Regions from separate parts of the Homo sapiens genome. Here regions 1 and 2 are each linked to region 3. Evidence: fine-mapped expression QTL. A gene starts in region 3. Each other region holds a variant in brackets. All regions are shown on one strand. Distances are between the middles of the regions.

Evidence for each region. PIP is the estimated chance that this variant, and not a neighbour inherited with it, causes the effect.
Region 1: its variant is the best candidate, but not a certain one, in a credible set for the expression of TM7SF3 in T cells (TOPMed, PIP 0.53).
Region 2: its variant is the best candidate, but not a certain one, in a credible set for the expression of TM7SF3 in whole blood (INTERVAL, PIP 0.89).

Annotation. Positions count from the first base shown.
Region 1 is chr12:26,972,136-26,981,687 of GRCh38, reverse strand. It overlaps TM7SF3 (transmembrane 7 superfamily member 3), which reads left to right. Exons shown (of 12, transcript NM_016551.3): 8 at 1,042-1,122; 9 at 1,752-1,904; 10 at 5,331-5,428; 11 at 6,030-6,192; 12 at 7,461-9,552. The coding sequence ends at 7,723. Among named protein-coding and RNA genes, the nearest start is that of TM7SF3, 37 kb to the left of the region's middle. The variant T/C (reference allele first, on the strand shown) is at 4,672.
Region 2 is chr12:26,947,935-26,959,242 of GRCh38, reverse strand. FGFR1OP2 (FGFR1 oncogene partner 2) reads right to left here. Exons shown (of 7, transcript NM_015633.3): 2 at 4,950-5,098; 3 at 2,583-2,700; 4 at 1,500-1,642. The coding sequence starts at 5,084. Among named protein-coding and RNA genes, the nearest start is that of FGFR1OP2, 15 kb to the right of the region's middle. The variant A/G (reference allele first, on the strand shown) is at 6,766.
Region 3 is chr12:27,008,504-27,019,811 of GRCh38, reverse strand. It overlaps TM7SF3 (transmembrane 7 superfamily member 3), which reads left to right and starts at 5,428. Exons shown (of 12, transcript NM_016551.3): 1 at 5,428-5,734. The coding sequence starts at 5,644. RefSeq lists a silencer at 5,236-5,735.

The sequences.
Region 1 (9,552 bases), 37 kb after region 3:
TAAATTGTTTGAAATAGCAACTCCTTTCCTGCTATTATGACACTTTTTTTATTAATTGGGAAGAGAGTATTGTAAAGAATATATAATATCTCAACATGTAGAATGATTCTGTAACAAAGAACTTAGTTGCTAAGCTGTGGTCTCAAAGTTATCACTAGCTTTTTTTTTTTCTTTTTAAAGAGATGGAGTCTCACTGTGTCTCCTAGGCTGGAGTGCAGTGTAGTGGCTGTTCACAGGTACAATTATAGTGCACTACAGCCTCACATTCCTAGCCTCAAGTGATCCTCCCACCTCAGCCTCCCAAGTAGCTGAGACTACAGGCACAAGCCACCATGCCTCACTCTGGGTTTTTTTGGTGTGTTGATATGTATCATTTTATATTTATTGAAATTGAGATACAGTACAAGTATTACCAAGAACAGCTGTGAAGAATTTAAGAAAATAGGTAGAGCTATGGCCTCCATGATCAGGATTAGGCTTATTTGTGGGAACAAAGTTATCTGTATACTTGCATTACCAGGTGTTTTAATGGATGAAGGTAATGATTGATCATTCTAAACAGGATAGGATGAATTAAAAGAAGATATAAAAGTTATATTTTGCTTTGGGACAGTTTGGGTTTCTTTTACCTTTTACATTTTATTTCTGCTTACAAAACTATTAAAATTTAATGTGTAATTTCGTATCACATACACGTGACAAAGTGCTATTCTTATTTTAAGCAGAAAACATAAATATATTAAAATGAGCTATGAAATGAACAAATAACAATTTAACAATGGAAACTGACCTATATACAAGAAAGTGTATCCTGTAGTTGGTACTTTAATATTGTATCTGTTTAATAATAATTACTCCCATGGCTGCTGAATTTCTTCTGCCTTTTAGATTTTTTTTTTCTTCTGAATGCTGTAACATGTAAATTCCAGGAGCTTAAGCATGTATTTGTAGATTAAATATTTAAATTGCACTGTAAAAAGGGTGCTTAACCATAGCTTTTGTTGTTTTGCTTTTTTCCTTTCCTGGTGGTTTGCCACTTAGAATTATTCTTCATAGGCTTTATCATCATGGGATTCTTCTTTTATATACTGATTACAAGACTGACACCTATCAAGTATGATGGTAAGTGAAAATTATATAGTTTAACTGGGTATTCAAGAAGGCAGGTGCTGTGTTTTACTTCACCTTTCCTTCTACAGTTTGGCCTATATTGTGTGTGACAGCCTATTACTTATGTAAAATAATGGTCCATCTAGTCTCTGAACACCTTTTCTGAACTACTCATTCAGACCTTCTGGGTTTTTAATCTGTATGGTGAATTCCTTGGTACTTAGGGAAAGGAGGGGCCATATTGATTATAGACCTGTGTTCTGGCTATGTGATATGTTGAAGATATGAGATGTACAACAAGCAAAATGTTGAGGTTTTCTTTACCTGAAAACAGATACCTCCCTACCCCATTATGTTTAACAGAATGCTTGTCAACTTTTCCTTCTCAATCCCAATTTATTGACAAGCCAAGCCTGTCACTGGCCCTGTGAGGTTTAGCTCCCTAGCTAATTTCCTTGTCTCAGCCCAGACCCCTCCCTAGAGAGGGTTGCTCTATGCTGGCTTCATGGCACCACTGAAGAGCCCTCAGTGCCTGACCTACAGAAAGCTGAAGCTGGCACTGGTAACGGTATTGTATGTCTAAGGCACGCGGTTGGAAGTACTGCCGGTTATCCAGCAGTTCATCCTCTCTCTTTGTACAGTGAATCTGATTCTGACAGCTGTCACTGGAAGCGTCGGTGGAATGTTCTTGGTAGCTGTGTGGTGGCGATTTGGAATCCTCTCGATCTGCATGCTCTGTGTTGGACTAGTGCTGGGGTTCCTCATCTCGTCAGTGACTTTCTTTACTCCACTGGGTAGGCGATATGTAACAGATGTTTTGTGTGTTCGAGTGACTGTTTGAATACTGCCTAATTGGATTTGCATCCTGGAGTGGTGTTGCATGTCAGTGCTTCTCCTGTGGAGTTCTGGAAATCTGCATTGATGGTGTGACACTTTCAGACAGCACCAGGACTAGTAAAAGTCCCTCCTTCCTCAAAGGCACAGTAGATGAAATATAGAATGTCTTTAGAGGTAGCTTTGTATCTATTTGTTGTGATAAGTGGTATGTGTTTATTAGAAATAATGGAGGTAAAGGAAATAAGGAGGTAAAGGCTCTGATGGCAGCTGAGTCGGGGAACCTGGTACTTTGTTTCTGGTCTTCTGTTGTACCCTCAACCTCCACTCCCATCCGCTGCCAAACCCCAGGTGTCCCTCAGGTACTTAATCACCCTGGGGCAGTAGCACAGGGCTGGTTCTGGGGTTTTTTTGGTGTTTTTAAAAAGTAATTCAATTGCTATCAGTTTTTAAAATCTGGTTAACTTATAAGTTAACTTTCTTTGCCATTGTTTAATAACTTACATTTCCTGATTATTGTCAAAAACAAACAAAAACAGCATCTGTACTCAAAAGTATTCTATTTGGTTGTTTCCTTTCTGTGACAATGTTCTTAAAATACTAGAATAAAGTTGATGGGACTGTTAGACATAAAAATAGCCATTTCATGAGGCTGTCAACTCTATAGAGAATGCAGGATATAATAGAGTACAAGTCATGTGTCCCTTGTCTCTCTGAAGACTTTTTTTTTCTAAGACTACTGGATAGTCTGATGAAAAGCAGTGTTGTGTAGGCTTGGCGAAATGACAGATTCACATGGGGATGTTTTTGAAATACAGATTCAAGGCTCTACCCTACATGTGCTAAATAAAATACTTCCTAATGGCTGAGCATGGTGGCTCATGCCTATAATCCCAGCACTTTGGGAGACCAAGTGGGAGGATTGCTTGAGCTCAAGTTTGAGACCAGCCTGGGCAACATAGTGATTCCCCATCTCTACTGAAAAAAAAAAAAAAAAAATTAGCCAGGTGTTGTAGTGCACACCTGTGGTCTCAGCTACTCTGGGAGGCTGAGGCTAGAGGATTGCTTGAACCCGGGAGGTTGAGGCTGCAGTGAGCTATGATGGTGCCATTGCACTCCAGCCTGGGCGACTGAACAAGACCCTGTCTCAAAAACAAAACAAAAAGACCACAAAAACCAACTACTACTTAATGGGCTTCCCCTCTTTTGTTAATGCTTAGAGGATGGAGGGATGATAGGTTATAATTTCTAGTAATTTAATGTACTTTTCATGAGGAGAATGAGCATAAATTATAAAGTCAGGAAAAAACCTTCTATATGCATTCTGGCTCTGTCACTAGTTCCCTTTCTAGCTTATAACCTTGGACGATGTATTGAAACTTTGTTCCATCATCTGTGAAACTATCTCATAGGATAGATGTGAGGAATGAGAAAACAGAAATAAAGAGGTCTCTTAATTTTCAACTTTATAAAGTAGTCTAGAGCAGTTGTCTCTAAACTTTTTGACATAACTATTCCTATTGGTAAAAATAATTTTAGCATATACCCTTTATATATGTTTGTTTATGAACTATCTCATAGCTCAAGGACCGTTAGAGTGATCATCTCCTCAATGCTAGTGGGTGCAAACCCATATTTTTATTTTTTAGAGACAGGATCTCTTTCTGTCACCCATGCTGGACTGCAGTGACACTATCATAGCTCACTGCAACCTCAAACTCTAAGGCTCAAGCCATCCTCTTACATCAGCCTCCCAAGTAGCTGGGACTACAGGTGTGTGCTGCCATGCCTGGTAAGCTTTTATTTTTAGTAGAGACAGAGTCTCACTGTTGCCTAGGGTGGTCTTAAACTGGGCTCAGGCAGTCCTCCCACCTCGGCCTCCCAAAGTGTTGGGATTACAGGCTTGAGCCACTGCACCTGGCCTACCTATATATGTATACACACACACACATACACACACACACACACACACACACATTATTTTTTTCCTGAGACGGAGTCTCACTCTGTCTCCCAGGCTAGAGTGCAGTCGCGCAGTCTCAGTTCACTGCAACCTCCACCTCCCGAGTTCAAGTGATTTTCCTGCCTCAGCCTCCTGAGTAGCTGGGATTATAGGCACACACTACCATGCTCAGCTCATTTTTATATTTTTAGTAGAGATGGGGTTTCTCCATATTGGCCAGGCTGGTCTCAAACTCCTGACCTCAAGTGATCTGTTCACCTCGGCCTCCCAAAGTGTTGGGATTACAGGCGTGAGCCACCATGCCCGGCCAAGAGGCCTACCCATATTTTTAAGCATTAGCATTTAAAAAATATTTGGCTGACCACTACAATCTGATTAGATTGCTAGTTTTCACCTTATGTGGGAAGCAATGAGCTTATTCTCTGAAAGGGTCCGTTCTTCACATGCATGCATCGTAACTATTTTCAATACTTAGATTTCTTGAAAGCCTTTTACAAGAAAGCCACATATGTATTTTGTGAAGGTTAATATAGTTAAACTAGAGAATAGAATCTATAAGTTCACCTCAATGGCATATTGCTGTTGGCTTCAGAGAATATGGAGTCTCAAGGTCCAGTCCTGTAGCCTAGGGACTCCCAGTCTTCCACTCTGACCTGGATATGTAGGTCTTGAGGTATGGGGCCATTTACAGATGGACTGAATGGTGGTGCCAGTGTCAGTATTAAACAGCAGTCAGCCTATTCTTGCTTTTTAAACTTAATTTA[T/C]AAAGAGGAGTTCTCATATATTTGTTCTGGGTCGGCCTAAGTTGTGCAGCATTTTAGAGTCCAGCAGCAGGAGAAGGGTTTGGGAAGAGCAGATAGTTGGTTGGTTCCTCTTTCCTGATACATGAGGAAATCACATGTCACAGTGTGCAGTGGCATGACAGGACATGCTTTGACGGTAAAAATCTGTTAAGTGGACTCACTGTTTACATTGGGTTCATGGCTTAACTTTGAATGCCTTTTACTTGTATTTTTTATTTTGCAGTATGAAATCATGAAGTCAGCAATGTAGAGCTAACAGGTGATTTAGAGCTTGGAGATATAATTCAATGTCATTTTGAGGGTTAGGAAACTGAGGCTCAAGTTCACAGAGCTAGTGAATGGAAGAGCTTGGACTATTCCAGTGTCTTCTAAATGATTTTGTTAATAAGTGCAGAGCGTTGACCTGCTTGGTTCCTCCCACCCACCTTCTAGAACACATCCTTCAAAGAAGATTGTATTGACAGTTAAATGAAGAAAATTAGAATTCATTTCTAGTTGCCAACATATTCCCTGGTTGTTACTTTAAGGCTTTGATGTATATCTGTGTTCAGATGTTCCAAGAAACCAACTCTAACTTGGTAAAGCTGTTGTTTACTCTTAGTTTCTTTTTGCTTTTTCAGGAAACCTAAAGATTTTTCATGATGATGGTGTATTCTGGGTCACTTTCTCTTGCATAGCTATCCTCATTCCAGTAGTTTTCATGGGCTGCCTAAGAATAGTAAGTGTTTCATCAAAAGTTAGATTTATTGATTATGTTATCCTGTGTGTTCAGCTGATCACTTATTTCATCATTTTGCATGTTTTATTCACTGGGGAGGGCTGTGTTACCTGTATCAGATGACTGATTCTAAATAGCCTTGTTACTGTGAAAACGAAGTTCTATTTATGATTACCACATGGTGTTTGTTTTTTTCTTTTTTTTCCACCAAATGGAGCATCACAGTCAATATGCTTTTAACAGTGGGAGCAGAGAAGGTAGTGCTTACTCTAGTACACCAACCTGATGGGTCATTAGTTTCAACTGGCTTCAGAAGAGTGATTCTTCCTCTAATTAGATTTTATTGTTGAAGTTCCTTCATATGGAAGATATTTTCCATAGTATTTGGATAAGCTGAACTGTGTTTTAAGAACTCATATGGATGTTGAAGGTTGTTTTCAGTTTATCTTTCCAGGGAACTTCTGTTCAGCTCTGAGTGGGTCTGGTCCTTTTTCATGCCTGAGGGAGCAGATGTGATTGCCTGTGATTGAAGCCAGTGGAGAGTTATAAACTATTTTTGTTCTAACATGGATGATGCCTAAACTCTTCCACTCTTCCACAGCTGAACATACTGACTTGTGGAGTCATTGGCTCCTATTCGGTGGTTTTAGCCATTGACAGTTACTGGTCCACAAGCCTTTCCTACATCACTTTGAACGTACTCAAGAGAGCGCTCAACAAGGATTTCCACAGAGCTTTCACAAATGTGCCTTTTCAAACTAATGGTAAGACTCTTAAATCCAAAAACCAGTGTGACAGCACAGTAGGAGTCTTGACCCACCTATGCTAACCAGAGCACTTGGAAACTAAATTTAAAGAAAGTCAACTGGGACAAAAGGAGGGAACACAGCATACAATGCTGTGAGAACCCTCTGTTATGATAACTCAGGATCATGGGAGTAAAGCATTTAAAATTTTAAGATGAAGATAAAAATCTACTAAATGAATTTCATTAAGAAATTTCCAAGATTATTTAGGTTTACCTGGTCATTCTCAGAGGGGAGAAAAATACTGACAGTAAAGATGTTTGAGACTTATGGGTGGGGATGGAATAAGGGATGAGAATGACAACCTGATTTAATGTTAAGTTATTCCCTTGTTTCCCTCCTTTAATGAAGCATGCAGTTTGCTAGTTGAAAGAGTTTTTAATTAGTAAGCATATAGTTTCCCTCACTTGTAAGATTCTATCCATTACAGATTTTCTATAAATTTTTTGAAGAAAAAAATGACTACCACATGAATTGTTCAGATTGTAAGATATGTTGACTTCAGAAATGTTGACATGTGGAGAGTGAAAAAGCATGTCCTAGAATTGAAGATATATTGCATAAGCACAATTGTGATTGTTGTGATTTTATTTTAGGGCAAATCTTTCCCTTTACTATCCAGAGCTTTCCCTTTGGATAAGAGGTTGATGGTAGAGACCTTGAAATCCTTGAAAACCTTAAAACTCTTGCAAGTTTTAAGTACCAGACAGTGTTTTGCCAAGCTAGAAGCTTTACTAGAAGCTGAGTACGATTGGTTGAATCTTTTCATGCATTCCTATACCTACACTGTGAGTGCAGTAGGGCCCCATGTAGAGTGGAATGGGAAAGAAATGAGCGTGGTGGAATCTGATGTTCCATGATGTACATATGTGAAGTGTAACTAGATCACTGCCTTCCTCCCCGAACCCCCTCTGAAAAAACACACAAACAACTGTGGGTACTTGTTACATAATGTTGGAAGGCCAAGGATCCAAACAACTGATTTTTTTACAACCTGTCTGGACTTTCAAATGCCTGTAATAGAAAATTCCTAGTTTCAAAAATAAGACTGTGGCTTCCCTACTGATTCCTTGGTTTGTAACTGAGGAACTACATATGTGTTTGGACTAACTCACCAGAAAGTCTATTAGAAAGGAATATACAGATTTAGTCCATGAAGGGTTGTATTATTATGTTAGATTTTAAAATACTAGAGTTCAAACTGTACTTTTTCTACTGTTTTTTAGACTTCATTATCCTGGCAGTATGGGGCATGCTGGCTGTAAGTGGAATTACGTTACAGATTCGAAGAGAGAGAGGACGACCGTTCTTCCCTCCCCACCCATACAAGTTATGGAAGCAAGAGAGAGAGCGCCGAGTGACAAACATTCTGGACCCTAGCTACCACATTCCTCCATTGAGAGAGAGGCTCTATGGCCGATTAACCCAGATTAAAGGGCTCTTCCAGAAGGAGCAGCCAGCTGGAGAGAGAACGCCTTTGCTTCTGTAGATGCCCAGGGGCTTGGTCAGTGTGCCTCAGCTTTGGAGTTCATGCCTGGAGTGGTTCAACAGTCTCTGGTGCAAGTCTAATAAGAGATCAGGCATATATATCTGTTCTTTGCATAATATTATGGTGCCCTTATTGATATATGGTAAGGGTGTACTAGGGGATTAGGATGATTGTAAGAGAATGAGAAAGATGACCAAAAGGTTGGTGGTAGGGAGGCTTTTTCTTATTTCCAAATACTTGAGAAATTACCTTTTGGTTTACAAATCTATGATCAACTTATTCCATTAAATAGATACATTAAAAAAATTAAAAACTGATTCTTCTGCAGAGCACTGGTGTTTCTTTTTATAACCCCTTGAAACAAGTCTCTCACCTGAGCCTGTCTAAACTTTCGGAGGGAGTTTATTATTGAGTCTTTATCTGTGACAGTATTTGGAGATTTAGGGATTTGATACTTAGGCCTTTGAATTTTAGAATACAAAAAGAGAAGCAAGCCAGACATGGTGGCTCACACCTGTAATCCCAATACTGGGAAGCCAAGGTGGGAGTATCGCTTGAGCCCAGGAGTTTGAGACCGACATGGGCAACATGACAAGACCCCATCTCTACAAAAAAATTAAAAAATTAGCCAGGCATGGTGGCACATGCCTACTCCCAGCTCCCAAGGAGACTGAGATGGGAGGATCCCTGGAGCCCTGAAGATTGAGGCTACAGTGAGCCTTGATTGTGTCACTGCACTCCAGCTTGGGTGACAGAGACCCTGTCTCGAGAAATTAAAAAAAAAAAAAACTTATTTTCTTACTAAAAGCAGTCTGATTACTTAGTTGCATGCCCTTCTTAGTATCATACATTATCCAAAAGTTACCCTTTGTTTTTTTTTCAGTATTTTTTAAAATTTTTAAGTTGTGATAAAATACACATGAAATTTACCTTCTTATTCATGTTTAAGTGTACAATTCAGTAGGTTCCCTTTGTTTTTGCCTTTTATTGCTTAAAATGGTAATTGAAATAGCTAAATTATTATTTGAAAATAGGCCAATTTATATAGATAATAGAATTTTATAAGGGTGATTTATATTCCAAATAATGGCCCCCTTTTTTTTTTCAAGGCCTTTTCAAATAGTGTCAACAGGTGATCTTTAATTTAACTGCATTAGATGACATATGGATTACTTTTGTTTTTAGGAAATAACCCCCACCTTAATCTATATTGCCGACCAGGTGCGGTGGCTCAAACCTGTAATCCCAGCATTTTGGGAGGTCGAGGCGGGTGGATCACCTGGGGTCAGGAGTTCGAGACCAGCCTGGCCAACATAGTGGTCTCTACTATAGTATAGTAGAATATATACTACTACACCCTGTCTCTACTAAAAATACAAAAATTAGCTGGGTATTGTGGCAGGTGCCTGTAATCCCAGCTACTCGGGAGGCTGAGGCAGGAGAATCGCTTGAACCCAGGAGGCAGAGGTTGCAGTGAGCCAAGATCACGCCACTGCACTCCACCCTGGGCAACAGAGCGAGACTCCGTCTCAAAAAAAAAAAAAGTCTGTATTGCCATTAATAAGAAAACCTTAGAAAAATTTGTACTTCATAGTTCTTTCTGCTCAATTAGCTGTTAGCATTAGTGTAAAATATAGTTTTTAATAATTTCTGTACAAAGCCTTTGTACAGAAAGGCTTCATCCTTAAAGTGATGAGAATGGAGTCAAAAAGGATTCAGGTGTTTAGAGGAGCTGCTTTTCATTAGGACCTTGGAGAGTCCCCTCAGTTTTGACACCCTTGTTTCACCACAAGAAAGCACCCGACACCCTGGGTTGCATACTTACTACT
Region 2 (11,308 bases), 61 kb after region 3:
TTGCCATTTGATTAGGAGATGAATAGCATAATTAGAAAACATTAAACACAAATTTTTAATTTAATTTATTATTTTACTGGTTGACACAAGAGGTACCTATCATTAGGTTTTCTAATATAATAAAGGCATATAAAGAGCTATTTGATAGGTATTTAATTCTAATAGAATTAATTACTAATAAGTTAAAAACACGTACAAGCACCAAAATGGAAGAAGTATTTTAAAGAATCTAAAATGTGTTTCAATAATAGATAAATATGAAAATATGTCCTTTCCTATTTCTGTTGTAACAAATGGGGAAAAGAAGGCTCATAATCACTGTTTCTTAAATAATATTGGTAATAATAATAGTCAGCTCACCATTATCTAATACAGGTAACAGTCTAGTTTCCACAATCTAGTTTATTATTTTTATTTCATATCAGCAACTAAAACTCAGTTTAAAATAAATATGTGAGAAAGGATTATTCTACTTGTCTTCATAGCAGTTGCCATAAAATATGCCATAAAATATGGGGACATACCAAAGGGAATAGACACAGGGATGACAAAGGGATGAACAGCAGGTAAAACACTAATTTCTAACTACTTCAGCTTTGTTTCTAAAAAATGATGTCAACTGGTATACAATACTGGGGCAAGGGAGCAAAATTTTACTATGTTGGTTCTTCTCCTGAACCCCATGTTTTTTCCATTATAATAAACAAGATCATTTATAGTCTGGATGAATTAGCCTTATTCAGAAAACAGTCTTAAGAAAAATCTACATTAAACTGCTTTCAGATTTTAAAAAAGGTTTCCATTATTTTTTGTTTTTGCAAGAGAAGTCAATACACAAATTTATTAGAAAAAATGTTTCTTAAAAAAATTTCTGTTTTTTAAGAGACAGGGTCTCACTCGGTTGTCTAGATGGGAGTGCAATGGCATGATCGTAGCTCAATGTAACCTCAAACTCCTGAGCTGAAGTGGTCTATCCACCTCAGCCTCCTGAGAAGCTAGGACTGCAGGCATGTGCTACCACACCCGGCTAATTTTTTTACTTTTTGAAGAGATGGAGTCATGCTATGTTGCCCAGGCTGGTCTTGAACTTCTGGCCTCAAGTGATCCTCCTGCCTTGGCCTCCCAAAGTGCTGGGATTATAGGCGTAAGCCACCATGCCCAGCCCTTTAAGAAATATTTCTTAAAAGTATATAGCCCTACAAAAATAATGTTGAAGAGACCAGACTTACCTTTATATCCAAAATAAAATTTATTTTTCAACGTACAAATTAAAGTTTCTAAGAAACAGTGAGAGTTTATAAATCAAACAGAAAATGATATATAACAAGAAATGGAAAAATAAGAAAAAGGAGAAAATGTCAATTAAAAAGATGAAACATTCAACATCATGTTAAAATGCCATTACTAGATACCTGTGATTTTTTTCAAAAAAAATCTGAACACAGAATAATCAATCGTCTCTCTTTTCCATTTCAGGTCACATTTATAGAATGGATTACCTTGGAGTGCTGCTCTTTTAACTTCATTATTATACCCGGATCATCTTTTTTGCTAGCCATTAGCAATCTAAACATTTGTTCTCGGTACTTGCTCATTATAAGTTCCAAGGCCGACTGATGTTCTTCCAGAGATGTACGTAATTCTATCAAGAATAATATTGTATTTTATTCCAACTTGAGTTAAAAGTACACAAAATATTCTCTTCCACTAAGCAACTTATGAACGGGACATTTTAAAAAGAAAACACAATGCACAAAAATCTAGCCATATAACAATAAGAGACACCAAATGAAGTCCCGTATTAGTTTTTTGAATATTTTAAGCTTGTTTCTTGAGAATCATTTCAACAAAGATGTACTAAACAGCAATTAATATCGGCCAAGGCTCCCTCTATATTAAGGGCCACAGACCTCAAGAGTCTAGTAGAGAAAACAAGCATGTGGTAGGTGGCAGAGTGGAGTGTTAAGTCAAATAGATTTAAGAGATGTCTATGGGAAGAAACTGGTGGAAGCTTTGTAGAAGTACAGTGTGAGTTCCCTCAGTTGAAAAGTGAAGGAATGGACCTTCTAAGCAGGTAGGCATGAAAACAGATGACGTGTTTAGGAAGTGATTGGTGTTGGCAAGAGCAAAGAGTTCACAGTGAAGAAAGCTGTGGGAAGAAGATTTAAAAAAAAGGCTGGGAAATGATTTTTAGGGACCCTGTAAAAGGTAATAAGTATATAATGAAAGTTCTTAGGCAAAAGAATTACATGATCAGACTGATTTTTGAAATATCAATCTGATGGTTATGTTGAAGACAGATTGGAAGGGGGAAGAGAGACTGGAATCAGGGAGATCAGTTTGGACATTTCAGGCAAGAGACTGAGCATCTAATCTGGGGGCCAATGCAGTGGGACTGCAGAGAATGAAGCTGGGTTATTTCATAGCTAACAACAGCAGTGCTAACTGGATATTAAGGGTGAGAATCTAAGAGGATGTCAACCAGGCAGATGTTCATATGTGGGACAGGATAAAGAGCAATAAATACGATTTAGGAATATAGACTAGAAATGGGATTAATGTCAAAAAGTAACGTATCTTACCTTTGTTTTCTTGTTGCAACTCTCTGATTTGTCTGTTTTCTTGCTGGATTCCCATAACTAACGTGGACCGTGGCCGATGTCTCGCGACTTCATTAAGTTCTTGAATTTCTTCCTGATACTAATGGGGGAGAAAAACATGTGGGATGAAAATACCTGCAAATATATATATATATATATATATGATATATAAATATAAATATATCTGAAATATACATATAAAAAATCTGATAAGAGCTTAGTATCCAGAATATATAAAGAACACTTACAACTCAACAATAAAATGAAAATAACCCCATTTTTAAAAGTGGCAAAGGATTTGAATAAACATTTATCTAAAGAAGATATACAAATGGCCAATAAGCACATGAAAAGATACTTAATTAACCTAACTAGTCATTAGGAGAATGCAATTCAATATATCCCACGAGGATGACTGTAATGAAAAAGACAATAACAATTGTTGGAGAGGATGTGAAGAAACTGCAACCTTCCATACATTGTTGATGGAATGTAAAATGATGTAGTTCAGGGGTGTCCAATCTTTTGGCTTCCCTGGGCACATCGGAAGAAGAATTATCACGCTGCACATAAAATACACTAATGCTAACGATAGCTGATGAGCTTTTTTTTAAAAAAAAAAAATCTCATAATGTTTTAAGAAAGTTTGTGAATTTGTGCTGGGCCGCAATCAAAGCCATCCTGGGCCATATGCAGCCAGCAAGTCACAGGTCGGACAAGCTTGGCATAGCTGCTTTGGGAAACAATGTGGCAGATCCTCAAAAAATTTTAACAGAGTTATTATATGACCCATCCATTCTACTTCTACATATATACCCAAGAAAACTGAAAACATATGTCCACACAGAAACTTGTACACAAATATTCATAGCAGCATATTCTTACCAGCCAAAAAAGTAAAATAATCCAAATGCCTATCAGCTGATGAATGGATAAGCACAATGTGCTGTATCCTTACAATGCAATATTATTTGGCAATAAACAGGAATGAAGTACTGATACATGCTATAACATAGATGAACCTTAAAAACATTATGTTAAGAAGCCAATCACAAAAAGCCGCATATTTTATCATTCCATTTATATGAAATGTCCAGAATAGGCAAATTCAAAGAGATAGAAATATTAGTGGTTGCCAGAGACTGAGGAAAGGGGAAACTAGAGAGAGACCACTGATGGATGTAAGGTTTTGTGGTGATGAAAATGTTCTGGAATCAGGTAGTGGTTATACTGCATAACCTGCAAATGTGTACTAAAATCCAATGAACTGTACCCTTCAAAAAAGTAAATTTTATGGTATGTGAATATCTTAATAGAACATGTACAAAAGAAATGCAAAAAGATTTTCCATTAAGAAAATGAGAATCTTATTTTAAAATTGCACTTATTTATTTTCAAGGCATTCTCATGAGACACTTAGTAACATATTCATTATAACACTCCTGGTTCTTAACTTCAGATGTCAAACTCCTTTTTTAACAACTCAATACCAGATATATGTTCACTGAAGTGCCTGAGTCTAGCTGGACAGTTGGTTAGGGATGCAGGTAAATCTGTTTAGGGCAACACAGTTGTAAAACCAAATAACTAAACTTGCTCCACTATTTCCAGTAGCTTTGTTAAAAATACTATCCCAGAATTGCTTCCTTTTACAAAATAGATGAGGAGATTTGGCTGTGAATATACATTTTCCCCCTCTGATTTCCATCATAATGTCAGAGATTTTATAATTTTCTTAAATGACTTGAAAATTTTTATCAGAAGAAGGTTAAAATAGTGTCTAAACTCCGTGGCCCATGGGAATATTCTGTTATACAATAGTAAAAATAGCAAGAAGAAAGCCCTTATGTATTCTTTAATTGGTAGCACTGAATGAAAAATAAGGTAGCAAGTATGGGTACAATAACTGCACAGAGTATAAATCACATATTACCTTGCATCATTTTCAAAAGCTATTTTGTTGTTAAACAGCATCACCTAAGTACTTTTATAAAGAAAAATATGAACATTTCTACATTATACAAGACAGAACAAAATGTGTACCAACATTAGTAAAAGGTATTATCTGGTCTTTGTCAAATGTTTCTAGACCTAACAAATTCATTTATTTTCTAAACTCAAATGTGCAACTCTGTCAGCAAAATAAGTGATCAAATCTAGGGTTTAGAAATATATGTCTAGGTATATCACCTGAACACGACAAAATTAAAGTAAACCTGAAACACACAAGTCAAGCTACTTTAAAATTTTAGAGAATGTTGAAAAAAATTAGATACTAATTAGCCAGCAATACATAAATGTCAATGACTGCTTTTGATAAATGGAATGAACAAGAAAGAAAAATCAAACCTGTTTCATGGCTTCTACTCGCTTGTTGAGAGCTGTGGTTTGCTCAATCAGAGATTCTGCTGCATCGTCATGATCTCTTAATCTTTCAACAAGAGCTTTAGCGTCGGCAAGTGCCTTCTCAATTGTGCAACTCATTTCTAAAGATATATCTATAATTAAAATTAAAATCAAGACTCAAAATAAAGTCAACATATCTCTTTATTTTAGCTTCATGTCAACACAGATATGCTTCTTAAGCCACATTTGTTACAGTATTGTTCACTGTCCAGGGAGGAAAAAACACCTAAGAACACTGTGGTTTTGCTTCTGTTAGGATACTACAAACTTGAAAGTAAATTTATACTATTACAAAAAAATTAGAACACAGTTAAAAGATTTGCAGACAGAACTAGAACGCATTTAAAACACTCTAAATTTACAGTGGGGAAAAAAGTACATGTCCAAGGAATATAATGTTATATAGAAATTTGCCCTTTATGAGGGCATTCCCTATCTTGTCACTTTTGAGGAAGATCATTTGGTTTACTGGTCAGTATTCTGGGGTCAATGACTGTCTGAAAACTTTGACTGTAAGAATGCTTCCTAACCTCTGCTTGGTCAGGTGACTTGACACACTGTTCACAAACACTGCTGACCAGCCGAAGTGGCCTCAATGTGTCATGCTACATTAAAGTCTCAACCTCTTCTTGGAAGAACTTCTGCTTCTTACATAAAGTTGCATTATAATTCTAACTCTTGCATCTTCCTTAAAGTGCAAAAAAAAGTTTTGACTTAGGACAAAACTGGTAATTACAGGAAACTTCTGATATGCTAAAATCAGTAAGCAATATGTTTAAGAGTAGCTGAAAGAAATATGAGACAAAACATGAAACAGTCAATTGTCAGCTTCTTCAACTGGTATGTAGAAACCTCAAACAAAATTTTAATAATTTTAAAGTCTCTTTCCAAAACTTTAAGTTTCTCCTGAAACTTACACTTACCCTCCTTGAAATCTTTTATCTTCCTTTTTTTTTTTTTTTTTTTTTGGAGACACAGTCTCGCTCTGTCGCCCAGGCTGGCTGGAGTGCAGCGGCGTGATCTCGGCTCACTGCAAGCTCCACCTCCCAGGTTCACGCCATTTTCCTGCCTCAGCCTCCCGAGTAGCTGGGACTACAGGCACCTGCCACCACGCCTGGCTCATTTTTTTGTATTTTTAGTAGAGTCGGGGGTTTCACTGTGTTAGCCAGGATGGTCTCGATCTCCTGACCTCATGATCCGCCCGCCTTGGCCTCCCAAAGCGCTGGGATTACACGTGTGAGCCACCGTGCCCAGCTGAAATCTTTTATCTTTCTACTAAGTTTTACCTAACGTTCAATATAAGTCATCCTTTCTTCAGGGTTTCCTCAAAAAATAAAATCACACTAAATTACCAGGCCAGAAGCCACGTCTACAGAAGTTAAATTAAAATTTGGTGTAGATCCAAGTGAAGGGTTATAAACAAAGACTTTCATCAACTTTATTAAAACAGCAATTTGCCACAGAATTCAGGACTTTGTTATATACCACTGCCCTGGACTACAGATCTGTACCAACTAGTCCAATTAATGATTATCCCCTCCAATACAAAAAAAAAAAAAAAGCAACAAGTAGCAAAGAGAAAATTTAAATAACTCAACAGTATAAAATATTTCATAAAACACATCAGGCAATTTCAGAAGACTTTCTCCTGTTATTTAAATCGCCAATTTAGAAAATGTCCAATATATGATCAGACATTTCCAGAGAGCCTTAAGAAGTAAACAAGCTGGAAATTAATATAACTTCTGGCTCTCTAGAG[A/G]AAACCACCACAAGATTTGTCTTGTAAGATTCAGGAGGTTTAGATAAGGATGCTTGAAAATATGAGGAGTAAAAGGGCCATTAAAGGAACCAATATTGTCTGATACTGGCTAATACCCAAAAGGACAACTACCCAAAATCTATCCGAAGATGCCGTTCTGAGAGAGGCATTAGTGCCCAACAATACCCTGTACTTCCTCTAAATTTCCAAAGGAAATTATCTAAAACTGTAGACAGACAACTTTCTTATTTGTTAAGAAAGTTAACATAAATAGGTTAAATGGACATCACTATAACTCCCATTAATCCCATTACTATAGAACATCGGATCCTTCTGAGTAAACTTTTAAAGCTGTCTGTAAAGCAAAATTAAAAAAAAAAAAAAAAAAAAGGACGGGCACTGACTTGTACTAAGAAAAATGAAATAACCAAAAAAATTGGTTTTATAGTAAAAATAATAGTTTATAACAGATGGTGAAAGTAATAAAAGACAAATTTGAAACTCTACAACAAATTGTAAAAGATTTGAGAGAAAATAAAGTTTACCTTGGTTTAATAGAACTCAAGTAATAGAACTCTCTAACAGTCCTAATCTGTAAATGATATTGTTGGGACTACTATAAGAAGAACCCTTCTTTACACACTAAAACATAACATCTACAAATGCAATAGACAGGATCTGTTTCCAAATAAAACGCAATAAGGTCCTATATATGATCAGATAGCTAAATAGCCCTCAGTCTAGATAGTCTTCCTACATAATCATAAATCTTTTTGAGTACAAAAATAGTACCCTGTGTCCTGGGAGTATTAACAACACGACATCAAAACCCCACTGTCTATTATATTGTATACCTTGGGCTGGGCGCAGTGGCTCACACCTGTAATCCCAGCACTTTGGGAGGTCGAGGAGGGCAGATCACTTGAATTCAGGAGTTCAAGACCAGCCTGCCCAACATGGTGAAACACCGTCTCTACTAAAAATACAAAAATTAGCTGGGCGTGGTGGCACACACCTGTGATACCAGCTACTCAGGAAGCTGAGGCAAGAGAATTGCTTGAACTTGGGAGGCAGAGGTTGTAGTGAGCCAAAATTGCACCACTGCACTACAGCCTGGGCAACAGGCTGTCTCAATAACTAACTAAATAAATAAATACAAAAATTAGCCGGGCCTGGTCGGGGGGTGCCTGTAATCCCAGCTATTTGGGAGGCTGAGGCAGGAGAATCACTTAAACCCAGTAGGCAGAGGTTGCAGTGAGCCATAGCACCACTGCACTCCAGCCTGGGCCTCAGAGTGAGGCTGCATCTCAAAAAAAGAAAAAAAAAAAATCGTATACCTTAATTCAGCAGCTAAGGTTTAGCTTCCCTGCCTCCGAGCAATTATAAACCTCAACTGAATTAATCAAAGCATCTTCAGAGGTTATTCTAGGTCTTTAAACCTCATGTTACCATGCATAGTAAATCCCTATTGCTAAAGGAAACCATCCAAAATTTCTATCATTTGAGTAATCATGAAATATTGCTACTCTCTCTTTTTCATATTACCATTCACTGTGTAACAGTATTAATCCAGCAACCTTTACCTACTGCAAGGAAAATCTCATGATTGTGATTCCATAACTCAAGAAGTATTCAAGTCCAAAACAAAACTTTTGAATTTTCTAGTACCAAATCCTGACTTTACTGTTTGTTAATGGGTTTTATCTTAAAAACAAAAATCAGCAGTATCAGGCTTGATATGCAACAGGTACATCAGTCACTGTGATAAAATTCAATTTCTTACCAGAAGCCAGACTGATCAAATGACTTAACTGTGCTCCACTAAGATGGAGCAACTTACTGAAAGTAAATATATACATGAATAGGTGATATGCTTTTAGAATAATCCACTTCTCTGAAATGCTGCAAAGAAAAGAGGTTTCTCAGATATCCTTTTAAAAACAATGAATACAGGGCAGGTGCGGTGGCTCACGCCTGTAATCCCAGCACTTTGGGAGGCCGAGGCGGGTGGATCACGAGGTCAGGAGATCGAGACCATCCTGGCTAACACAGTGAAACTCCGTCTCTACTAAAAATACAAAAAAAAAATTAGCCGGGCGTAGTGGCATGCGCCTGTAGTCTCAGCTACGCAGGAGGCTGAGGCAGGAGAATAGCGTGAACCCGGGAGGCGGAGCTTGCAGTGAGCCGAGATTGTGCCACTGCACCTCCAGCCTGGGTGACAGAACGGGACTCTGTCTCAAAAAAAAAAAAAAAAAAAAAAAAAACAACGAATACATTAACTACTTGATGGCTTGATGGTAGCTGCCTAATATAACTGCTATCATAAAGGTAGAAACAATATTGTAGATACCATAGAAATACCTTAAAGTTCGTTACTATAAGCGGGATGCTTTGACTAAATGTCCTTATGCAAAAGCCTCATATGAAACTGTAAAATAAACCCATGAAGAAGTTAAAAGACTCCATGATAGATACACAAAATTTGGCCTGTCAAATTTCAAAAGAACCATTGTGACCATCAAGTTGTAAGATCCATGAAGATAAAAACTGACATAATCAGAATGGCTACTTGATAGTACCACATAACACCTCAAACAGGGCCAGGCACGGTGGCTCACTCCTGTAATCCCAGTACTTTGGGAGGCTGAGGCAGGTGGATCACCTGAGGTCAGGAGTTCGAGACCAGCCTGACCAATAATGATGAAACCTCATCTCTACTAAAAATACAAAAATTAGCTGGGTGTGGTGGCATGCGCCTGTAATCCCAGCTACTCGGGAAGCTGAGACAGGAGAATCGCTTGAACCCGGGAGGCAGAGGTTGCAGCGAGCCAAGATCGCATCATTGCACTCCAGCCTGGGCAACAAGAGCAAAACTCTGTCTCAAACAAAAAAAACCTCAAACAGATACTACTCCATGAAACATTTCATTTAAGTAGAAAAAAATGGCCACAATATTAAACACGAATGGGAAAACTTACCTTGGATAGCATAGGATACTGGTTAATTCATGCTTCATTTGTAAATAAATTAATCTGGAAAAACTGTAGGCCAGGTGTGGTGGTGCACACCTGTAATCCCAGCACTTTGGGAGGCTGAGGTGGGTGGATCACCTGAGGTCAGGAGTTCGCGACCAGCCTAACATGATGAAACCCCATCTCTACTAAATACAAAAAAATTAGCAGGGCGTGGTGGTGCAAGCCTGTAATCTGAGCTACTTGGGAGGCCAAGACAGGAGAATCGCTTGTACCTGGGAGGTGGAGGTTGCAGTGAGCTGAGATCGCGCCATTGCACTCTAGCCTGGGCAACAAAAGCGAAACTCCATCTCAAAATGAAAAAGAAAAACTGTAATGGTGAATCAACGACTAAAACCATTCCTGAACAACTTTCTGAACATCTCTAAGAAGATTTTATGGAGTTGCCTCTCTCCATGGTTTAGAAATATTTATTATTATTTTTTTAAGTTTAGTTATTTTTAGAGGCGAGGTCTTGCCATCACCCAGGCTGGAACTCCTGGACTCCAAAGACCCTCCACTTCAGTCTCCTGAGTAGCTGAGACTATATAGGTGCATGCCACCATGCCAGGCAATATTCTTAAATATTCTAGTATGTTTACGTTATGAATACCTTAGAAGAGTCCCCTACCGAAAAGACACAATATTCACAATGACTAAAATACTGTATTTTGTGTATTCTCCCAAGCGCATTCTAACTTGTCATCCAATAATATAAAAACATATTTAACTTCAATAGTTGAAACTTATACATTTCGATGATGTAACACTTTGCTTCCTTCTAAGAAACCTTGTCTTCATCATTCCCAGTCCTCAGGAAACCCCAGGCAGGAGTTTCCAACAAGATCTAACTCCAGACACGTTGTAGTCACATTTCCAAAAACTAAAGACAAAGAGAAAATCTTGAAAGCAGCCAGAGAAAAATGACATATTACTCATAGAGAACAATTTGAATGACTGTAGGCTTCCCAACAGAAATGAAGGCCAGTAAAAAGTAGAACAACACTTTCAAAATGCTGAAAGAACAGACCTATCAACCCAAAATTCTATATCCAGCAAAAATATGTTTCATATATGAAGGTGAAATAAAAGTCATTCTCAGCTGAAGAGAAAGAAGAACTTATTTCCAGTAGACTTATTATAAAGAATACTCTTCAGTTAGAAGCAAAGTGTTATCAGAAGGAAACTTAGAACATCAGGAACAAAGGAAGACCAACTGAAATTGTAAATATCTGGGTAATTATTTTCCTCTTAGTTCTTTTAAATGTCTAATGTTTAAAAACAAGAATTATAACATTTATCTAATGAGATTTTTAATTTATGCAGGCAAATATATAACTACAAGAAAAAGGGAGGAGGCTAAAAAGGCCTATACATTGATCAGATTTCTACATTTCACTTGAAGTTGTAAAAATATCAATTTTAAGTAGACTTAAAAATTTACATATATTGTAATTCCTAATAAATCCCTAAAATAACTGCACAGAGATAATAGTCAAAACTACAATAGATTAATTGAAATGAATTAAAAA
Region 3 (11,308 bases):
ATCTCCACTTTGCTCCCTTGGTGATTGTCCACACAGTACTCAAACCTTATTTTATTATTTATTTATTTATTTGAGACAGAATCTCACTCTGTTACCCAGGCTGGAATGCAGTGGCACGATCTCAGCTCACTGCAACCTCTGCCCCCAGGGTTCTAGTGATTCTCCTACCTCAGCCTCCAGAGTAGCTGGGATTACAGGTGCCCGCCACCACACCTGGGTAAGTTTTTTGTATTTGTGTAGAGACGGGGTTTTGCTATGTTGGCCAGGCTGGTCTTGAACTCCTGACCTCAGGTGATCCACCCGCCTTGGCCTCCCAAAGTGCTAGAATTACAGGCGTCAGCCACTGTGCCCGGCCTATTATTATTTTTTTTACTTGCCACTATACTAGTGAACAAAATCTTATTTTAAACATCTCTTTATAAAAGCCTTTCCTGAATTCTGAAAGTTAAATGCTCCCAATCTTTAACACAATTGTTCCTTACACTTCTGTTATTGCACTTAGCATACTGTGCTGTAATTATTTGTACATCACGCTAATTCACCCACCAGTCCATGGGCTACTTGCAGGCAGAAAACATATTCTGTTTCCATATTTCCAGTACCTAGCACCTAACTTTTAGCCTGGCACATATTTATCAACCAAATGAATGAGTTTCCTAGCATAATAATTTCCATATAATAGCTACTAAACAAGCATTTACTGAATTTAACTTAATGAACAAAGAATGTAAATTACTACCCACAAAAGAGCATAAGAATTAAAAAATACAGGATGAAGGTGAGATTAGAGTGGGAAAGAATGAATGGGCAAATTTCACAGAGGTTCAATCCTGCCTTTTCCCTGGATCCCCACTCCCAGCTCCATTTAAGGTATTTTAGGTTTTATTTAAAAAGCTAGGGTAAGTTTTTTCCCTTCCTCCTTCTCTCCCTCCTGCCCTTCCTTCCTCTTCTAAATTTTAACAGACTTTTGTTTTATTAGATACAGGGTCTTGCTCTGTCACCCAGGCTGGAGTACAGTGGCATAATCATGGCTCGCTGCAAACTCAAACTCCTAGGCTCGAACAATTCTCCAGCCTCAGCCACCTGTGTATCTAGGACTACAGATGTGCCCCACCATGCCCAGCTAATTTTTTTTTCTGGTTGTGTGTGTGTGTGTGTGTATGTGTGTGTGTAAGAATGGGGATCTCACTATGTTGCCTGGGCTGATCTTGAACTCCTGGTCTCCAGAGATCCTCCTGCCTTGGTCTGCTAAAGTACTGGGATTACAGGTATGAGCCACTGCGCCTGGCCTAAACAGACTTTAAGCCTCTAATGATGCATATCTTGGATTTGGGAATCTTTCAGTTTCTGCATTTCCTTTCAATACATAGGAAAAATGAACTAATCTGCAAAGCTGCTAAGCTTGTTTGCTTCTCAGCTCTCCAATGGAACTCTGACATGAGCATGGAACCCCAGCCAATCATCCTCCCAAGCTGTCACAATACTGTACTTAGAAGCCAAGGTAATGAGGCCCTGTTCTGATTGCTGACACATTTGTCATCAACTGTCATGCATGCACAGGCAACTGCAGGCCTGGGGAACTGCGATGCAAAGGTATGGAGGAGAGAGAATAGGCTCAGTTCAGGAAATTGAAATTAATTCAATGTGGCCAGCATGTAGAGGTCTGATTTTAGTTGCAGCAAGAACCTAGGGAGGTGAGCAGGAGTTGCATCACAAAAAGCATTTATGTGTCATACTCAGGAAGGTGGACTTATATCTTGAATGCTTTTATAAGAAAACCTTTAAAATTATATGTATCTTTTACAAAATCATAATTTCTTATTTAAAAATGATACACTTCAATGTAGAACTTTTACACAGAAATGTGCAAAGGAAATCATTCTTAATTTAACCACCTAAAGATAACTATTTTAAACATTTTGGCATATATTTTTCAACCTTTTTTTCTATGTACATAACCAGGAATGCATACTACAAAGAAAACAAGGCAGGCACAGTGGTGTGAGCCTGTAGTAGTCCCAGTTAGTCTGGAGGCTGAGGTGGCAGGATTGCTTGAGTCTGGTGACAGACCAGGAGCACCGTCATCTCGGACAAACACCGCCACTTTAAGTTCCAGCTCCCTTTCTAGCCTCATGCATTTCAAGGAAATCACTTCTCTTCTAACTATAAGCAGCCAGAAAGAGCAGACAGTAAAACACAGATAAGACAGCTCAGGCACAAAGGGAGGTGGGGGGAAATTCTCTTGGGTAACTGCCAAACTTCACCCTCATACAATGGGCCCCAGTAAAACAGTGGGCCTTAGTAAGTACATTCCTTTCCCTTCAGGTGCACTAAGATAGGGAAGCTAAAAGCAGACTCGGGGGTATGCCTGCAGCTGCAAAAAGATGTATGGGAACAGACACACAACTCTCCCTCCCAGATAAGCACAACAGACACAGAAGCAGTCCAAGCCTCTGATAAACTCTCCCACCCTAAATCCTTAAAAACTCTTATTAGTCCGTAAGAGAGTGTGCCTCTAACCTAACTGGCCAGAAGCCCCTTTCAGGTTTGTTTTCTCTAAAATAAACTTGTCCTTGACTTCTAAGCCACCTTTCCTGTTTCTTTCTTCTTTAATTCTTACATCTGGGAGTTTAAGGCCAGCCTGGGTAACATAGTGAGATCTTGTCTCTTAAAAAAAAATTACAGGCCGGGTGTGGTGGCTCACGCCTGTAATCCCAGCACTTCAGGAGGCCGAGGTGGGCAGATCACAAGGTCAGGATTTCCAAACCAGCCTGGCCAACGTGGTGAAACCCCATCTCTACTAAAAAAAAATACAAAAATTAGCCGGGCATGGTGGTGTGTGCCTGTAATCCCAGCTACTTGGGAGGCGGAGGCAGGAGAATTGCTTGAACCCGGGAGGCAGAGGTTGCAGTGAGCCAAGATTGCACCACTGCACTCTAGCCTGGGGGACAGAACAAGACTCCATTTAAAAAAACAAACAAACAACAAAAGTATCCATTCCTCTGAGTCAATAAAAGATGTATGTTAAAAAAAAAAAAAAGCCACGTACTATATATACTTATTGCATCATAACTTGCCTTTTCATAAAGACTTCAATCAGAATATAAATGAAGGGCTGCACAGGATCCTCTTATAAAGCTCTATCATAGGTTATTTAACTCCTAATTGTTGGGCATTTAGGTTGTTTTAGATGTTTCTGCTACTCTAAATAATACTCTATGAATAGTTCTGTACACTATTTTTTTTTAAGAGATGGGGTCTCACTATGTTGCCCAGGCTGGAGGGCAGTGGCTATTCACAGGTGCAATCATACAGCACTGCCCTCTTGAACTCCTGGGCTCAAGTAATCCTCCTGCCTCAGCCCCCTGAGTATCTGGGACTACAGGCGCATACCACTTCCCCCAGCTTATACTAATTTTTATATGTGTATTTAATTATGTACTTAAATCTAAAAGTGGATTATACCAAATCTACAAAAATAAGATTTTTAAACATTTTTGATGCCGATTACTTTATTAAAGTGTATATTCCCAGTATCCCTACCTAAGAATGCCTCCTTCTTAGCTCTTTTATCCACACTGGATGTTTTATACTTTTAAAATGTTTACATCTTAGTTTGTTAATTTGATTTTTTTATTTGTTTACTAGTGAGATTGAACTTTTTTCATGTATTTACTGGTAATTTGTATTTCTTTTTTGGGGTGAAATTCCCCATTCATGTCCTTTGCTAATTTTTTTTTTTTGGTCAACTTGCCTTTTCATATTGTTTGTGTGTTTACTTTAATAAAATTTAAATATTTATGTAAAAAGCATTTACGTAGCCAAGTCTACCAATCTTTTCCTTTATGGTTGTTTCCTTTGCTGTTTTGCTTCTTAGAAAGCTCCTCCCATTTTGAGATCAATTTATTAAAAAAAAAAAAGAGCGCCCTCTTCTGCTAGCTCTTTTATGGTTTTATTACTTTGGGATTTTGTTTTCACAATTAGTGTGAGATAGAGTTCTGCTTCTCTCTGCCCATAGTGCAGCTAATCAGTTAAGAACACAATTTATTGAATAATCCATCCACTGATTCAGATGCTACCCTTATCATAATTGTCCCTTTCATCTTCCTTGGATTTCATCTACTGAGGGTTATAGGAATAGGGGCATGTGGGAGAGTGAATAAGCACTACAGAAATAGATAGTGCTACCAAAGGTGTGAAAATTTGGACCAGGCAGTGGGAAAGCAGAGAAAGAATTGTGCCTATGACAAAGATTATTTGCTTGGCCAAACTCTAGTACGGCTTCTGAATCTTCTGCTAGGTCCATCTGTGCACTTCTTTGTAAAAATCCAGTTTTAGCAAAGAACCCCCTTTCCTCCATATCTAATCAGTTTTCTCACCCTGCACCATCCCCCAGGTGATGTTATGTCTTCAGAAGTCCTGTTAGGTCAGTTTCACCAAATGCCCCTTACCTCTGATGCTTCCTCTTAGTAATTTTCCATCCACTGAACTCCATACTGCTGGTTGGCTATAAATTCCCTCTTGCCCACGCTGTATTCGGAGTTGAGCCCAGTCCCTCTTCCCCACTGCAAGACCCAGTTGCAGTGGTCCCTATGCCAATTGAGACAGTCCTCAATAGTCTTCGTTCGGTGCTTTAACAAGTATCATTGAATAATTTTGTCTTTAACACTTCTTCACATTATGGTCACAGCTATATATTGTTAGCTTAGTAGTGGACTAACTGAACATGTAATTTCCAAGCTATAAGTTGCTCATCAAAATATATAAGTGAAAAAAATTAAAACCAGGGAAGGAAAGCAAGACAATCCTCCCCAAATAACGTTAAGTCTATGCGTCTAATTCCACATCATCGATGAGCCATCTGTCACATGGACTACTGTCCCTCAAACAGCACTCAGGTATGAGACTTGAGACGAAGTTCAGACCAAGGCCGTGTCTTCGAGGATATTTCGCTTAGAGAAAACGAAACTACTTTTAAATGTAGTGCTTATGACTAGTGCGGTAACCACTACACAAACAGCATTCTCCTGGCATTTTTATGCTAACATAAGCCTCAGCAGCGAAGACAATTGCTACCGGGGGAAATAACCTTCAATTGTGTTTTTAGCAACTGATTCCTCTTTTTTGCTGTTGTAAAGGGCCGTTAAACACGGAAACAGGAGCCTGGCGACGTTAGTCCGCAACAGAAAGTTATTTTGTACTTTCACAGTGGGTTTGCCTACTTGGTGAGATAAAAGTGGGGCAAGACCGGGCCTCAAGCCAGGACTTCCTGGGGGCTCCCGGGAGCACCGCAGGCTGCGCGTTCCCCGCGCGCCGGCAGGAGGCGCGCGCTGCCTGGAAACGCCCCAGCGCCGCCCGCGCCCAGAGACCCGCCGCTGTGACGCAGCGAGAGCCCGGGAGGAGGCGCGGGAACGCGCGTTGGGGGTCAGGTGCCGGAAGAGGAAACCTCTCGCTGGGGCTAGGAGTTCGGCGGGGCGCGCGCCGGCGGCTGCGGAGCTGGCAGGTGCGAAGCGTCTGCACCTGGCGGGCGATGGCGCCCGATGCGGGCGCCCCGGGATAGCGTGGGCGAGGCTGCGGGGCCCCGGCGCGCACGCCCGCACCTCTCCCCAGCCCTGGCGTGGGCCCAGCCCGGCCCAGGCAGCAATGGGGTTCCTGCAGCTGCTGGTCGTAGCGGTGCTGGCATCCGAACACCGGGTGGCTGGTGCAGCCGAGGTCTTCGGGAATTCCAGCGAGGGTAAGGTCGGGGCGCCTGGCTTCTGCAACCCAAAGTTGCTTTTGCATTTCTTGCGAGGTCAAAATCCGCCAGGGGTCTGTCAGCCTAGCAGGGAGATGGTGCTGGGGGCGTTGGTACACGCTGGGTGGTGAGTCCAGAACCGGCACGAATGGTGTTTCCTGCAGCGGAAACACTCATGGCTAAGGAGGTCTTACTATTAACCTCCTCATTTAGCGGAGGAAATGGGAAGAGATAAATAATTCTCTTTTTTTAACACAGTATTATCTCCCTTAGGGAGCAGCCATGTTTGTGGCTTTAATTCAACTTACTAAAGCGCCTCTTTGCTGCCCAGTGGACTGTCTGAGCTTCTGGACAGCAAGACTTGGGGTGGAACTAGCGGCTTAATGACTGATGGCTCTCAAGCTGCATGGAATTTTTACACCCCCAAATCTAGAGGCTTTTCAAACTGGTTATGTTCTACAGAGTTTGAGAGGGAAAATGAACCCATAATGAGGCTTTATTTTTAAAGAGCCTTTACCATCTAATTTATTAATACCATCTGGAGACAGGAAAACATTCCATACTCACAATGAGAAATAAAGGACTTTCTGAATTACAGATACATAGACATACAGATAGAATGTGTATACCCTCAATTCTACAAGTTCAGCCACAAATGAAAAATAAACACAGAAACACAAAAGCTTGCCAGTCCAGGTATCAGAGTTGTTCTCCTTACTTGAGGGCAAGAAATTTCTAATCGATTTGACCTTAAAAAAGACAAATGGACAAAAACTGTGTTCTCTGTTGTCTCATATCCAACAGGAAATAGATCTCTATGAGATATTAATTCGTTTACAGAGATCACAAAATTCCCAATCATTGCAGCTACCAACAGGAAATAACTTGTCATCCATAAATGAACTGTAAAAAATAACAATTTAATAGAGAGTAAAACTAAAATGAGAAAAACAAGAATCAACGAAGTTCTATTGCCACTTCAAATTCACCTGTGGGAGCCAAGAAGCAACATGCCCGGGCTTGGCTCCCTATGAGTACACCATTTTTGATGATTTCAGGTGACTTTTTTTTTTTTTTTTTTTGACGGAGTCTCGCTCTGTCGCCTAGGCTGGAGTGCAGTGGCATGATCTTGGCTGACTGCAACCTCCGACACCCGGGTTCAAGCAATTCTCCTGCCTCAGCCTCCAGAGTAGCTGGGATTACAGGCGCCCGCCACCACACCCAGCTAGTTTTTGTATTTTTAGTACAGGCGGGGTTTCACCATGTTGTTCAGGCTGGTCTCGAACTCCTGACCTCGTGATCTGCCCGCCTTGGCCTCCCAGAGTGCTGGGATTACAGGCATGAGCCACCGCGCCCGGCCGATTTCAGGTAATTCTTGTTCATCTCAGTGAGAACTCAGAATGGGATGTTAGATTGTAAGTCTTGTGCTTGGTGAATGGGTTTGGGCAACAGCTCATGGTTTGTTAATATAAAATGTAAAAGGCACTAGTTGTGCCAGGCAGATCATCATGTGCTTTTCCATGAAACTAAGCACATTCTGTTTTGTTTTGAGGTTAATAGACTAGTTGCAGTTCTGAAACATAATATTTTCTGAATAATGTGATTGTGTTGCTATGCACTTATCTTTGAAAAGCCCTTGTGCAAACTGAATTCTAGGATCTTTGTATATAGGACTGAGGCCAAAGCTGAAAAGGGCAACTTTTTTTTTTGCAGAAAAACCTTGCTTATAATAGGGCACTAACATTCACTCTGTATAGTGTGTGCCAGGTGCTTTCCACGTGCAGTGTTATTTAATCCCCACCACCCTACAATGTAATGATCTTCCTCCCTTGTCAGAGGAACAAATGAACAGCTGCTAGGGTTACAGATAGGACTTGAACCCAGGTGAGTCTCCCTGCAAATTTCATAGTCCTTCCACTTCCGTAAAGCTGTCTTCCAATAAGAATATCTTACATGGCATGGTGCTTTGTACTTAATCCTTCTGTGAATCCTCATTCTTCAAAATAGCCTTATGATGGAGGTAGAAGAGATGCTATCTCTATTTTAACAGGTGAAGAATTTGAGATATTAGAGTTTTTAGTTGATCGAGGCCAGCCCCTGAGTCAGGAGAGCAGGCGTCCAGAACTTTTTCTTTCTACTTGGTGTTAGTATTTAATACCTAGAAATTTTTATACAAAAGTTAAAAAATATGAATAAATTGAGAAATTAATTTTTTTCAGACACTGCTTTTTGCCTCTTTGCTATGATTATAGCACTGATATTCCTCAATGTTATTCTTTTTGCCTTGCATTGGTATTGTCATTCTGTGCAGAAGAGGGACAATGTGGGGACTTAACTGCTGAGTGATAATAAAAGCTGATATTCTCCACATCTATCAGCTAAAAATCAGTATAGAAAGGTAGAAGGACATAGTTCAGGACTTGCATAATCCTCCTAGAAAATGGCTGGATTGATGTTTGATGATGATAATTCTGATAACCATACAAACTGAAGAAATTGAGCATCTGCTGTAATTTAGGAGGATTTACCCATCTTTGGCAGGATGAGCTAACTTGCATGACTTCTGTAGTGGCCTGAATGCTAAATAAATCTTGGAACGTGGCAGATGGAGTTCCTAGAATGTCTGAGGAGGGTGCTTTCTGTGACCAGTAGGCACATGAGATGGATCATACTTTTAAGCAGTTTTCCCTTCTCTTGGAGTCCCAGTTCACTGCTGCCTTTAACATCTTTCATTTGTTTAGATTCATATCCAGTAACTCCCGTGGAATTTCATAGTAATTGGACTTGAGCACAGCATCATTTGGGCCTTTCAGTCTTCTTGCTATTGATGATGCTTTACCAAGGTAGCAGGCTGTTCATGGTTAGTTGCAAGTGCTGTCTTTCTCTAAAAAGTGTGTGAAGCTAATATGTTCATTTTTGTGTTCCCTTTCAACCTTTAGGGCTATTGAACATTTGTAAGAAGATAACAATGAGAAATTGGGAGGGGCGGTTGACTGCTGACCAACTCAAGTAGCTGAACCATTTTTGTTTTTAATGTGAAGAGAATTATGAAGACTAGGCTATGATGGATTTCTCTTAGAATTTGGTTGTTGTGTTGAAACACAAACAGTAGAAGTAAATTTTAGTAAAATAGTAAAAAGGAAGAGTTGGAAATTTTTATGGTTGCCAGATTAGGATCTGATTCGGAAAGAAAAAGGAAAGTATTAGGATTGGGCAGCTCTTTTTAAAGTGGAATTATTGGAAAGAAAAAGTGATTCTGGGTAAGAATGGAAGATGGGTGTGAAAAATTGTTTCAAGTCCCTACTATAGGTCAGATGGCAAAAAAAGCCATTTCTTTTTAGAGGAAAGCTAATGTAAGTGCCCCAACTTGATGTTAGCCATTTGCTTTGTAATATCTTTTGATGTGCTGTCTTTTTTCCTCCTACTCTGCAAGTCATAAGATATAATTATGCCTCATAAAATGCTTCTAATAAATCCTTTTCCATATGCCTTAGAGGTGAAGTTAAATTCCTGTTAGCTTCTTCAGGATATTTTTTGAGTATGTGTCTTCTTTTGCTAAATCTGTTTTTATGAGCAGAAATTAAATGAGTTTCTACCAGACTGAGCTGTTTAAGTTGTCTTGACTTTCAGTATCTTTTGTTGTCACTCTTCGGAAGTCTCTTTCTCAACGTAATGCTTATGATGTGCCTGGAATTTCTGTGAATGCCCTGTACATGTTAGTTCCTTTCTTCCCACTAATTTTTTCGTAGGGCTGCTCTGAGTGCCTGATTGTCTTTCTTTCTTTCTTTTCTTTCAATAAGGAGATGAATGTGTGAAGCACAGGAAAGCTAATGGAAATTAATAAATGATGCTTTATTGTGTAGCCTTGGGCAGTTTAAAAGTTGTTTCCCATTTGTTTGATACTTTCAGCAGCCAACTGATGGCAGCACAGTTACCTCAATTTTACTTTGAGGGAACTGAAGCCCAGAGGAAGTACATTACTTGCCTGAGGTCACATAGTTCAGGCATCATTTAACAAACATTTACTGTATGCCAGTTAGGTGACTATACTGTGTTAGACGTTGGAACATCAAAAATGACAAAATCCTGCACAGCCAGGAATCAAACCACAACTGGTTTGGTTAAAGCAATCTTCTGAAAAAAATTGTACAATGGATGTTAGATTGCCAGGGTTACACTGCCAAAGTATTTTCACACAGATGTTAGGTTAGAGATAACTAAGACTGGGAAAAAAATACATATTTATCCTTTGCTTGTTTATCAAACACTATGTTAGGAGTTCTCAAACCCAGCTAAACATTAGAATTACATGGAGAACTTTTTATAAAAGATATATTGGTGAAGAGACAGCTAGAAATAGACATTTAAAAGAAAAAGCAGGGTCGGGTGCTGTGGTTCCGTCTGTAATCCCAGCACTTTGGAAGACTGAGTGGGGGAGGATCTCTTGGGGCCAAGAGTTCAAGACCAGTCTGATCAATATAGCAAGACCTCATCTCTACAAAACGTTAAGAAATAAAATTAAAGAAAAGAAAAAGTACATTTAAAATAGCCTCAAGAAACATTACGTATTCTGGGATGATAATCATGGGATATGTAAAGACCTCTACAGAGAAAATAACATAATACATCTCAACATTCTTTAGATAAATTGAGAAACTAAAGAAATAGAGGAATATCGGAAATTCATAGATTACAAAATTCTAAAGATAAAGATATTTTAAAGGTATCATTTCTTCCTAAATTAATGTATATATTCAGGGCCATCCCAATCAAAATCCCAGCAGGTTTTTTTGTGTGTGTGTGGATATTGACAGGCTGATTTCTAAAACTTATATGGAAATGTAAAGGATCAGAAATAGTCAAGATAAATTTGAGGAGGAAGAACAAATTTGGAGCAGGAGTTAAGAGAGTTGTAATATTTGTGTTAGGATTGGTGTCTATAGCTAGACAAATAAGCCAGTAGAATGCAATTGAGACTCTAGAAGCAAACACATATGTTCACTTGACTTATGTGAAAGGTGGAACTGCAAAGCAGTAGGGTGGGGAGATGGTGGTATTTTTAAATTATTTTATTTGTATAAACTTATGGAGCACAAGTGTAGGTACAGGATATATTGTGCAGTGAAGTCAGGGCTTTTAGTGTATCCATCACTGGAATTATGTACATTGTACTCATTAAGTAATTTCTCATCTTCAGGCCCCCTCCCACCTTCCTCAGTCTTCAATGTCTATCAGTCCACAGTGTAGGCCCATGTGTACACATTACATAGCTCCCATTTATAAGTGAGAGAACATGGGGTACTACAGGGTGGTATTTTTAGTGAAGGTTGCTGTCAAGTAGATGAACATATGAAACAATGAACTGTGACCTCTATCTTACACCATGTGTAAAAATCAGCATCAGCTTGATTTTTAGCTCTAAATGTGAAAGATAAAACAAACTTCTGGAAGTTAACATGGGAATGTATCTTCATGATCTTGGTATATGTTGACAAAGATTTCTTTAAAATGACACAAAAGGGACTAATCATAAAGGAAAAACCTGAAATTGACTGCTAAAATGAAAACTGTTAA